Regions from separate parts of the Homo sapiens genome. Here region 2 is reported to be linked to region 1. The links are microRNA targets in miRTarBase. Many come from high-throughput screens and were not tested one by one. Region 1 holds a microRNA gene; the other region holds the end of a gene's coding sequence.

Evidence for each region. The annotated mature microRNA hsa-miR-4505 reads AGGCUGGGCUGGGACGGA and lies in region 1 at 2,248-2,265, shown strand. An mRNA with a match to its seed (bases 2 to 7 or 8) in the 3' UTR can be bound and repressed. Matches are read on the target gene's strand: a 7mer-m8 pairs with bases 2 to 8, a 7mer-A1 pairs with bases 2 to 7 and ends in A, and an 8mer does both.
Region 2: the mRNA of DNAJB9 is a reported target of hsa-miR-4505. Seed matches in the 3' UTR shown: 7mer-A1 at 2,115-2,121.

The regions. Positions count from the first base shown.
Region 1 is chr14:73,756,502-73,762,575 of GRCh38, forward strand. MIR4505 (microRNA 4505) reads left to right here and starts at 2,246; the gene lies at 2,246-2,318. It overlaps MIDEAS (mitotic deacetylase associated SANT domain protein), which reads right to left and starts at 3,802. Exons shown (of 13, transcript NM_001367710.1): 1 at 3,262-3,802. RefSeq lists silencers at 1-159, 2,470-2,579, 2,940-3,089, 3,220-3,459 and enhancers at 1-78, 1,770-1,819, 3,880-4,209, 5,125-5,647, 5,648-6,074 and 1 more.
Region 2 is chr7:108,572,081-108,578,154 of GRCh38, forward strand. It overlaps DNAJB9 (DnaJ heat shock protein family (Hsp40) member B9), which reads left to right. Exons shown (of 3, transcript NM_012328.3): 3 at 819-2,770. The coding sequence ends at 1,273. Among named protein-coding and RNA genes, the nearest start is that of DNAJB9, 5.2 kb to the left of the region's middle.

The sequences.
Region 1 (6,074 bases):
ATGCAATTTTTCAGTCCCAGAGTCAAGAGTTCTCATGTGCAGAAAGAAGCAATTCCTCCAACAGAATGCGGCCACTGGCTCTGCTTCCTGCCACCTGCAGTGAGTCAGGGAAGAATGGAGCCCCAGGCTGCTTCTGTACTGATGCATGCACGCCTGCACACACACAGGAAGGGTGCCAATCTGGGCTGACCAAAGGAAGTGCCCAGGCTAGCAGATCCCTAGGGAGATGGCTCCACAACTCTTTCACCCTGAGGTCCCCTTAGGGTCAGGATGACCGACACATGCACTCCACAAGGCCAGCTACAGGGCAGTGCCAGGAAACTGGGTTCACCAGCCCCAGAATCACCCACGGTGGACTGACATTTTTGAAACCAGTGATGCAATCTGAGGAGGTTCCAGGAGCAGGGACTCACTGGGCCCAACACATGACAAGTACACATTTTTTTTGATGGAGATCTTTCACTAATTTGTTCAACTAACATGCACTAAGACCAGGTGAGGTAGTTCAAGACTGTAATCCCAGCACTTTGGGAGGCCAAAGTGGGTGGATTTCTTGAGCCCAAGAGTTCAAGACCAGCCTGGGCAACATGGCAAAACCCCATATCTACAAAAATAGAAAAATTAGCCAGGTGTGGTGATGTGTACCCGTAGTCCCAGCTACTTGGGAGGCTGAGGTGGGAAGATTGCTTGAGCCCAGGAGGCTGAGATTGCAGCGACCTGAGATCGCACTACTGCACTCCAGCCTGGGCGACAGAGAAAGACCCTATCTCTAACAACCAAAAAAAAAAAAAAACACTAAACACTTACTAGATGCCAAGCAGCATTGTGGGACCCATTCAAGCAGAGGCTACCAAATACTGAAATGTGCTTTAAGCATTTTACGTATACTAACTCACAGAATCCTCACAGCAACTCTATGAAGGAGATACTGTATAGGAACTCTAACTCAGAGTCTTTGTTTTTGACCACCACACTGCAGTATGTACACAAATAACTACATAAGGTGGAAATGAGTGTTCAGAAGATGGCTACAGCCTTCAGAAGTGGCATTTGAAACAGGATTAGAAGGATAAGCTGGAAACCCCCAGCCACTTTGTGGCTGTCCCCACCCCAGCATGAGCAAAGTTTTCTTCTGGGAGACCCAAATGCAAGAGAGGGGCTCTCAACCTGAAGATTCCTGGACTGGGCCCATTCCCCTTCCCCTCTTCTGTCAGAGGTCTTGGCACCCCTGGGCAGCCTTTCTCTGGGGACTCTAGACACAGGAGGCCCTCAGCTGAATCCACAACTGCATGTTGTCTTTTCTTGTGTTCCACTTATTGAAAGCAGCAGCACACAGGGTCAAACACTGGGGCTATTTTAAAATCCCACATGTAAAAATTAAATTCTCATCCCCATGGGCACTCCAGGGCGCTCTTTCCTGGGGCGGGGTGAGGAGCTGACAGAGTCACGGGAGTGGGGGTTCTGCTGGCACTTGGAGAGGCCACACTGGCAGTGGCTAGGCTGTTCCAGAGCAAGCTGGCAAGCTGTATGACCTGGGGGCATCCTCCAGGTTCTTCACCCCCTTGTCCCCCCGGGAGCTACACGGACCAGAGTAACCAGCCAGAGGCCAATCCAATTAGAGTGGAGACTGGACCAGGGCCATGCAACGAGATGGTTTATCACAGTAATTGAATGTTTACGCTCCTATTATTCACTGTCCAGAGCAGTTGGAAAAGGAAGACCTACGAATTCTCAACCCGGGAAGGCTTCTCCTTTTCCCTGGGTTCTGAAGCCACTTAACACCCAAGGAAAGGGTGCATTTCTCTGATCCAAAAGGGGCGTGTGCCACACCTTTGGTGGGAGGCTCTAGAGCAAGACAGGTGGTTTCTCCCCTCAGCTGAGGCCCCCTAGGGAGGACTGGCTTCTCGGTCCACCTTCACTAGGCCTTCAGTCTCAACCCTGAAGCTACAGGAACAAGAAGATCCCAGATCACCTGGCCAGGCTCCCCCTGCTGGAGCAAGCCAGACATCCCCTCCCTCCCCCAGCCGCAGCTGCCAACAGGGATCCCCTGCATACGCGGGCCACCGGGGCCTCCGTGGCCAGCCTCTCTTCCCCCATCCCACCGCCCCCCGCGCGAGGCTCCACAGGCTGGCACACAGGTCCCACGTGGGATGGTGGAAACAGGAAGCAGCCACCGTAGTTGTGACCAACAAAGTTTTAAATGGGGCATATAACTTCCCCTTTCATCTTCTCACCAGCTCTCGCTGGAGGCTGGGCTGGGACGGACACCCGGCCTCCACTTTCTGTGGCAGGTACCTCCTCCATGTCGGCCCGCCTTGGGGCTGAAGCCTGAAGGCCCCAGGGCACACGAAGTTCCCCTTCCTCCCCTAGACCTTTACCCAGAGGCCTTGGGGGCAACCTGACACACATGGTCCTGCATGTGCGACTTGGGAGGCGACGTGACCAGCTCCACCAAGCCGGCCATATGCAGGGCCCGGCCGAATCCCGGGTTTCGGCGCTGCCGCCAGGCACCAGGGAACACAGCTCCCCGCGAGGCACCGCGCGGGCTGGGAGGGCTGCGGCGGCGCGGGCGTGCGGGGGCGCGCGGGAGGATGACAGGTCTGAGGTGCGCCCGCCCGCGCGAAGCGCTCCAGCCTAGGCCTCTGCTGACTGCATTTGCCCCAGTTCCCCAACGCCCCTGCACCTCTGTCCCCCAAACTCCTGGCGTGGACGCCGCGTCCAGGCCCACTTTCCCGTGCACGCTGGCAGGGGAAGGGGCTCCCGCGCCAAGTTCCCTCAGCTGGCTAGCCCCTCGCCGCGCCTTCCGGGCCTGGGCTCCGTCACGTCAGCCGGTCCCCACGGACACCACGTTTCTCTCCAGCGGAGGAGGAGCAGCCGGATTCCCGAGCCGCCGCGGGCCGCCGGGTGGGGAGGGCTTTCCTGGCGGGGCCGCGCCCGGGTGGGCGGGGGCCGCGCGCAAGCTGCGTAGCTGCACAAACACCGCGGGGCTGCGCTGCACACGCAGCTGCGGGCCGAGGGCGCGGACCGCGGGGGAGGGGGCGGCGGGCTGCAGGCGGCCCCCGCACGGCCACACGCGCCCGCTCCACCGCCGCCCAGGCCGCAGAAGTTCGAGCGCAGCGGCCCCCGCGGCCCCCTCTCCGGGCCGCGCCTGCAGAGCTGCAACCCGCCGTGCGAGCAGCCACAGCTCGCGCGCCGCCTGGGGTCCCCTCGCCGGCCCCGCCGCGTGCAGGCCTCGGCCGCCGGCCAGGCAGCCCCACTTACCCAGCTCTTGCCCGGGCTCCGGGCTCCGGGCTCGGCTGTCCCCCTTCCGCCGCGGGTCGCCGCCTTCGGTCGCCTCCGGGACTCCAGCCGCCTGCACGCACTCCCGATTTTAAAAACAAACAGGCGCCGTCGCCTCCCCGCGGCGCTCGCGGGGCTTCCGCCAGCCCGCGCCTCCCGAGGCTGAGAAGTTTGCTGGCAGGGCCCGGGCGGGACGCGCGGGCTGTCACCCCCCGCTTGCGATGCAGGAGCCTCGGCGCGCCCCGCACCCGTGCCGTCCGCCTCGCGAGCGCTCTGCCTCCCTCCGTGTCACCCCCAGTCCTGCGATGCAGTGTCAGGATTGCACGGCTCTGACTCATCGGTTGAGCTCACAGCTTGAAAAAAAAAAAAAGAGAGAGGGCGAGAGGCAACAGCGGAGGAGGAGGACTCTGGCGTGCTACAAAGGATTGCACAACTCGAGGCTGGGAGCGCGGAGCGCCCAGCGGCCGGCCGGCGCGCGCGGCACCGCGGCGAGCAGGAACCAGCTCTACCACTTCATCAGCACAACTGTCTCGGGGCGGCCTCAGCCAGCAGGCCCGGCGCCGCCCACTTCCTGCGACCAAATAAGGCCGGGGAAGGCGTCCTTAAACCTCAGGCGGCGGCCGGGGCTGGGGATTTCCAGCAGACCTCACCTCCACTCACGAGTCGGTCGCCGTCCCCATCCCCCGCCCAGGCTGGCGCCCCCGATGGCTTTGCTGGCGGGCCACGCTGCTAGTTCCTTTCACACCAAGGTCAGGAGGAGACGGTGACGAAATGTTTGGAAACCCATTGAGCCTGCCAGGAAAGTGTGTGTGTGATGCTGGGGAAGGCACAAGTCGCTTTCTTCCACAAAGAAACTCTCTCTGGTTTTGGATACGGTAAATCATGCACAATCCTCTCCATGGCATTTTATTAACAGACTCTCCGAGTTTCACTTTCTGGCTCAAAAGCGTCCTGGTGCGTGTAAAGGTTATTGAGAAACTGGCCTCAGTCCCTAGAAAGGACCCACCATCTCCATCGCTTAGGTGAGGAAAATCTCCTGGATTTAAATCTAGCAACTCAGGCCAGAGTTGAGCGGCTTTTCACTCCATACTCACATTTTCCCCTGTCTTCCCTAAATATCCCCCTGATCAATTCTCAGGTCCAGGCCTTGATGCCTCCTTGCCTGACTGGTGGGAAGATGGAAAACATTTTTGCAGCTCAAGAGGTTGGTTCTGGCCCCCACATTCAATGGGGCTCTAGGGCCAGGGGAAAGTTCAGGGGAGTGTGTCCTATTCTTCCTTCCAAGTTTTTTGGTGGTGGTGCAGTGGTGGTGGTGGCGGCGGCGGTGGTGGCGGTGGCTGTTTTTCAAGGAGATGGGTCACAAGGAGATTTTCCTTTGAAAGAAAAACCACCGAAGAATACCATGTGTCCTGGCAGCCACTTTTCAAAACACTGTGGCCAGACCTGAGAACCAGGTGCATCCCTCACTTTCTCAGGGAGAAGAGGAGGGAGGGGCAGCAGAATATGATTCTCACACACTCACTGGGCCTACAGGGCCAGGGTGGGGTGTGGAGGACACAGGCAAAACTTGGATCTTCTGCCCAGAAATCCTGCCAAACCTGCACTTGCTTCTAAGGGGGCATGGCTTTCCTGTCCTCTTCCACCTCTTTGCTGGCTGGAGCACCTGCGTACATGTACACCTGGAAGTCACACCTCCCCAAGAGGAGAAGGGCTTATTTGCACCATGTTATGATAGATATGTCAAAATAAGGAACACTTAAAACAATCTTATCTACAAAATACAGGTAATTATGCCACAGGACTGGACCAGAGGACCTCTTGAGATCCCTTCCAGTTCAAGATCCATGATTCTGTGATTACAGTAAGTGAATAGAGGAGCTAGGGAAACCACCTTCTACAAAAAAAAGCCCGGGCTCCCCGATTTAGCATCTGTGATGACAGTATTGTTCCTGGCAGCTCTCAGAGCACTTCTCCATACAGTCTCCTGAAGAGCCCTGCATGTGAGTTTTATCTCTCTCAATCTGTGGATGTACTGAGGTTCAGAGAGGTTAAGTGAATTGCACCAGGTCACAGGGCAAGCCAAGCATCTGTGACCTCTCTGCTCCTCCCCCAGAGGAAGGCAGTGAGCAATTGAGGAACTGCAGTGCTCAGGCCTGCAGACCCCCAAGCAGAGGCCAGACTCTCAGGGCTCCTGGCAAAGGATCAGGGTAGAGCCTTTTTACTTTTTTCATTTGCCTGATTTCTTCCCTCCCACTGACAACACATCCAAGTGAGGGAAGCAAAAGCAAAGCCATTTGGTCTCCAGTGCCCACTGCTGCCAAGTTCCTCTGCAGACCTGTGGCCATCCTCACCTCCCCTGAGAGCCCAGCCCCTGCAGTTGGCCTTAGGCCAGCCCAGAGTGAGCCCCTAAGAGCTTGTGCAGACCAGCCCAGGGATGTTCCCAACCAACCAGAAAACCTGACTGGGAAGCACATTGCTAGAAGAGCCTGCCATCATGGAGCCAGGGCCCAGCCTTCAGGGAACAGGTGAAAGCCACTCCAAAGGAGTGGCCCAGGAAGCAGCATACATAGTGGAGGCAGGTGGCAGGGGAAACAGAGAAGTCAGTGGCCCTGAAGGAGCCTTGCTCACCTTGGAGCGGCACCGCCCTTCACTACAGCTAAACTTCCAAATTCAGGCCACCTAAGAAAGGAGAGAGAAGAAAAGGGGCACACATGTGTGCAGGGGAGGAGGGCTCAAGACTATACCAAATAGCCCCCCCTTGGCAGGAGAAGTCTACCTCAAAAAGGCGGGCAGAT
Region 2 (6,074 bases), not on the chromosome of region 1:
TGAGATTATTTTCTTATCACAGATGCTTTGATTCCTGAATAAATATATGAAAGAATAATAGATAATTTTATTGGTATACGTATCTAAAAATATTGAAAATCTATTCTATATTATTTATAAGATCACTGTTGCTTCTATGACAAAAAAGAATTTTAGGTACCCAAAATTCTTATCAACTAACTTATGAAACAGAATATTTTACATTTTAAACATTAAAGACTTAAAAATTAAACTAGACTCTAAAGTGCTTTATTCACTTGATCTGCTTTTCAAAGCCATATTTGTCTTCAAAGAAAAAATTGGAACAAATTTTGACTTCAGACTAGCTCTAAAACAAATTGCACCTGCTGAGCATTCAGTAATTATTGTTGGATGGAGGTAACTGAGTAGGGAGTTAGAATTAAACAGTTTACTTTAGTAAGGAGGTGCAAAATCTTAATTCCTATTAATTGGTTATAGTTGATGGTTTAATTTTTTAATACAATTAATGATTTCACACGAATAATATGAAGATTAAAGAACTCTGATTGTTGCCCACATGTTTATTTGTAGTAATGGTAACATTTAATAACTTTATTGAGTATTGCAGATGGCATTGTGCCAACTGCTGATAACTCAGCAGTTAATAAGACAGTTTCTGCTTTATTTTATAATTTTGATTAACTTGATGCTTATATTTGTAGTGTTTTGCTTTTATTTCTGATGCGAAATTCTTCCCTAAAATAATAGTATTCAGTTCACTTGCTTGAAGAGATTTGAATATATGTAATTTTGAATATTTTACCTTCAGTTACTAAAAATATTTTTGTCACTTTCAGCATATGAAACACTCTCAGATGCTAATAGACGAAAAGAGTATGATACACTTGGACACAGTGCTTTTACTAGTGGTAAAGGACAAAGAGGTAGTGGAAGTTCTTTTGAGCAGTCATTTAACTTCAATTTTGATGACTTATTTAAAGACTTTGGCTTTTTTGGTCAAAACCAAAACACTGGATCCAAGAAGCGTTTTGAAAATCATTTCCAGACACGCCAGGATGGTGGTTCCAGTAGACAAAGGCATCATTTCCAAGAATTTTCTTTTGGAGGTGGATTATTTGATGACATGTTTGAAGATATGGAGAAAATGTTTTCTTTTAGTGGTTTTGACTCTACCAATCAGCATACAGTACAGACTGAAAATAGATTTCATGGATCTAGCAAGCACTGCAGGACTGTCACTCAACGAAGAGGAAATATGGTTACTACATACACTGACTGTTCAGGACAGTAGTTCTTATTCTATTCTCACTAAATCCAACTGGTTGACTCTTCCTCATTATCTTTGATGCTAAACAATTTTCTGTGAACTATTTTGACAAGTGCATGATTTCACTTTAAACAATTTGATATAGCTATTAAATATATTTAAGGGTTTTTTTTTTTTGACAAATTCAACATTCAACGAGTAGACAAAATGCTAATTATTTCCCTGATTAGGAAAGTTTCTTTAAAAAACACGTAATTTTGCCTAGTGCTTTTTCTCTACCTGCCCTTGGGCTCACTAATATCACCAGTATTATTACCAAGAAAATATTGAGTTTACCTGATTAAACTTTAAAAGTTAATTGTAGATTTAAATTGTGTGAACCTAATGATTTTTGCAGTGAAACCTTTACTAATTCAAAGTTGCATGTTCTATGACATCTGTGACTTGCGTTGCAGAGTGTACATGAAACTGTATAATTGAGTCATTCAGTAAAGGAGAACAGTATCTTGGTTAATTGCTACTGAAAGGTTGAGAAAGGAATGGTTTGATATTTACCACAGCGCTGTGCCTTTCTACAGTAGAACTGGGGTAAAGGAAATGGTTTTATTGCCCATAGTCATTTAGGCTGGAAAAAAGTTGAAAACTTAACGAAATATTGCCAAGAGATTGTTATGTGTTTGGTTCCAGCCTAAAAATGATTTTGTAGTGTTGAAATCATAGCTACTTACATAGCTTTTTCATATTTCTTTCTTAGTTGTTGGCACTCTTAGGTCTTAGTATGGATTTATGTGTTTGTGTGTGTGTAGTTTATCCTCTCTCTCATCTTTATCTAGAGATTGACTGATACCTCATTCTGTTTGTAAAACCAGCCAGTAATTTCTGTGCAACCTTACTATGTGCAATATTTTTAAATCCTGAGAAATGTGTGCTTTTGTTTTCGGATAGACTTATTTCTTTAGTTCTGCACTTTTCCACATTATACTCCATATGAGTATTAATCCTATGGATACATATTAAAACAAGTGTCTCATACAACATTGTATGTGAGAGAAATATAAATATTTACAACCTGATATTCGTTGTTGTTTTATTGTTAAAAGTTTATTATGCAACTCTGGAGGTATAGAGGGCATATAAGCTATGGGACATATGCTGATCACAGGCTATATTCATGAAGTTACTTTTGACCAACCTGAAAACTGATAGGATTTTGTTTGTCATTTGGTAATTTCTACTGCATTCTTACCATCCTTCTCTCACAAATTTTGATAGCTTGAAGATCTTTTTAATTATAATTTTGTTGTATTTGTTTCCTAGGAGCAAGTGTTCCTGCTGCCAGTTCTTTCCTCTTTAGGCGTGGTTGAGAAAAAGCAGAAACTTTACATAAAGCTGTATTTCTTAATCATCTTTAATTTGAAACTTAAGAAAATGAATTTATTCTGTTATATTTATGTAACTTATTTCCTGGAAGTTATATCTACTAGTTTTGTTTGATAATAATAAAATTAGCTATACCTTGAATTTTGGGCTGAGGATTATCTGTAGCCTATTTTAAAAAAAATCAAGTTTTGAGACATTCCAGTAATATATAAAGCAGAAGAGTGTGGCTTGGGAGATAAATCAGAAAAACCACAATCAGGATGTCCTGGAGAAGCTTTAAGGATTGGATTTGGGTGAGGGTGCAGAATTCATTCATATTAATTTATTGAAGAACTGCATTGGAAAGCTCTGCTCTTAGCTACTCCCTCCAGGTAAACAGTTGTTAACAAAAGTAACTTTTTCCTCAGGCAAGGGACTAAACAAGTCTTGAAAGAATGGGGTTATTTGGGGGAAGACTTACCCATTGAGGGTATTAGGGTGTGAGGTGAAGGCAGAGTAAAGGTGAAGTGAATTTTCACTTGAAGGTCAAGGGGGTGCTGGTGAGAAATGGCAGCACTCCCAGAGTAAAGCCTCCTTATGTTGGCTTGGTGGGAAACAATTTCTCTGCATGCAGACCACATACTCACCTGTGGGTACCTGCTGGTTAAAAAACCCTGACAATTTAGCCGGGTGTGATGACATGCACCCATAATCCCAGATACTCTGGAAGCTGAGGTGGGAGGAGTTGAAGGCTGCAGTGAGCTATGATTGGCCACTGCCTGACAATTTACTGAGAACCATCGCTTCTATTCAAAAAGGAGGTCTAATGCAGACACATAACTGCTGAAGAAACTGCTTTTCTCAGCTATCTGTGCAATTTGATCTAATCCTTCATAAACACATACTGATGTCCAAAGAATGTCAGACATTTAAGGAAAACTGATAGCTAGGAAAAGAAGCCCCAATGATTAGCCCTGACAATGTAATTCAGAGATTGAATTTAAGATTCTAGTATCAGATTTTTTTAATAGAATATTGCATCAACAGATAAGGACAGTTCTTGTCTTAACCTGCTTACTTCAGGATTTCTTTAATGATGGTGTCAGAACAGATGAAGTAATGTGAACTTACATTTGGTTTACATTTACATCTAACAACCAAAGTCAATGGGAGGTAACAGATGTGTGGTACATGTGTTTCCTACCATGCAGGCCTACTTTTTCCTTTGAAATTCATATTCTTCCTCATATCTCAACTTTGTTACTCAACTCCCTCGCAAACTTCTCTCCAGAGGTTGCCCTAATGTGGAGCTACCTAAATTTATTGTGCAGTTCTTTTTACTGTTACTCATTATGATACACCGTAACTGGTGAGCAGGATGGTGGGGGTGATTACATTCTTATGGAAAAAGACAAGCAATAACCATATGAATAAATTATAAACTGATAAAGTATGGAAAAAAAATGTAGCACAGGAGAGGAGAATTGTGAGGGCAGGCAGGTTGAGGATGTGTTGCAATTTTTGACAGGATTGTCAGTGTTGGCCTCATTGAGAAGGTAAATTTGAGCAGATGCTTGAAGGGAATTGTTTGTACTGAAGGTGGAAGCATATGTGGGAAGTTGTAGGAATGGCAAAGAAGTGCGCATAACTGGAGGCCAGTGAGCAAACCAGAGTAGAAGGAGATGAATTCATAGATAAGAGGGGTTGAAAGCAGCCCTACAGATCACCTAGGGCCTTGCCAACCTTTGTAAAGGATTTGATTTTGGAATGTGATATGGTGGCTGAGCTTGGAGCAGATAAATGACTTGATCTTTAAATCATTTTAAAAGGGTCACTCCACGTGCTTTGTTCAGAATAGACAGAGGGGCAATGGTGGAACAAGGAGAGAGTTTGGAGGCTATTTCAGTATTCTAGGATGAGAAATTGTTGCAGCTTGTGCATCGCACGAGGGTGGCAGCAGTGGAAGTGGTAGGAAGTGGTTGGATTCCAGATGTATTCTGCAAGTACAGCTACCAGGATTTGCTTATGGATTAGATGTAGGTGTGAAAGACAGAGGAGAAAACTATGATTCTAAGCTTCATGTTCTGAGTAACTGGAAATACAGAGTTGCCTTTAAGATGGGAGAGGCTGCAGAAAGAAATTTAGGAGGAAAAATCAGAAGTTCAGCTGAGATATATCAAATTTGAGATGATGAGTAAATGGGTGGAGATATGTCTGAAGTTTGGGAGAGAGAGTGAAGCTGGAAATATGCATTTTGGGATTGTCAAAACATGTGATACTTAAAACTTTGAGAGTAGATGAAATTACTGAGGGAATGTGTAGAGACATAAAGAGCAATTGAATAACTGAGTCCCCTGGTACTCTAAAAATGCAAAAAGAAGATGAGGAGCCTACACAGGCATCTGATAAGCAGCAGCCAGTGAGTAATGAGTTTTGTGTCTTGGAAGGAAGTGAAATAAATATATCAAGAAGTAGAAAGCGGCTGGGCATGGTGACTCACGCCTGTAAACCTAGGACTTTGGGAGGCCGAGGCAGGTGGATTGCTTGAGGTCAGGAGTTCGAGACCAGCTTGGCCAACATGATGAAACCCTGCCTCTACTAAAAATACAAAAATTAGCCAGGTGTGGTGGCAGGTGCCTGTAATCCCAGCTACTTGAGAGGCTGAGGCAGGAGAATCACCTGAATCCAGGAGGTGGAGGTTGCGATGAGTTGAGATCATGCCACTGCACTCCAGCCTGGATGACAAAGTGAGACTCTATCTCAAGAAAAAAAAAAAGAAAAGAAAGAAGTAGAAAGTGATCAACTTTGTAAAATACTGCCACTAAATCCAGTAAGACGATGATTGAGAACTAACCATTGTTGTTTTTAGCAATACTGATATCAAAAATGACCTGGATGCCAATTTCTATCAAGTTTTAGGGGTGAGCCTGATTGAAGCAGGTTTAAAACAGAATGGCAGCAAGATTAAGTGCTCTTAAATCATTTGACAAAACATTTGTGGACATAATTTTTATCGTGGACTTTTTAGTAGAGTATCAGCTATGATTCAATCCATGTAGCAATAGCTTATTCTTCAGAATGATGTTCTGCAGGAGTAAGAAGTATGCTATGAAAAAAAAAATCATGTTTAAATAGATTTGTGAAATCTGGGTTGGGATTCAAACCTTGCTAAATATGTTTCTTTTTAGGTGAGTGCTAGGGTTTGAATGGTTATGTCCTCCCCATATTCCTATAGTATTAGTAGATAGGGCCTTTGGGTAATTAGGTCAGGAGGCAGAATTCTCATGAATGGGATTAGTGCCCTTGTAAAAAGGGCCCAAGGGAGATCACTCATTTTTTTCTACATGTGAGGTTAGAGAAGATCTATGAGGAAGAGGGCTGTCACCAGACAGTCAATCTGCTAGTGCCTTCATCTTAGACTTCTTAGCCCCTAGAACTGTGAGAAATAAAGTTCTGTTTTTTATAA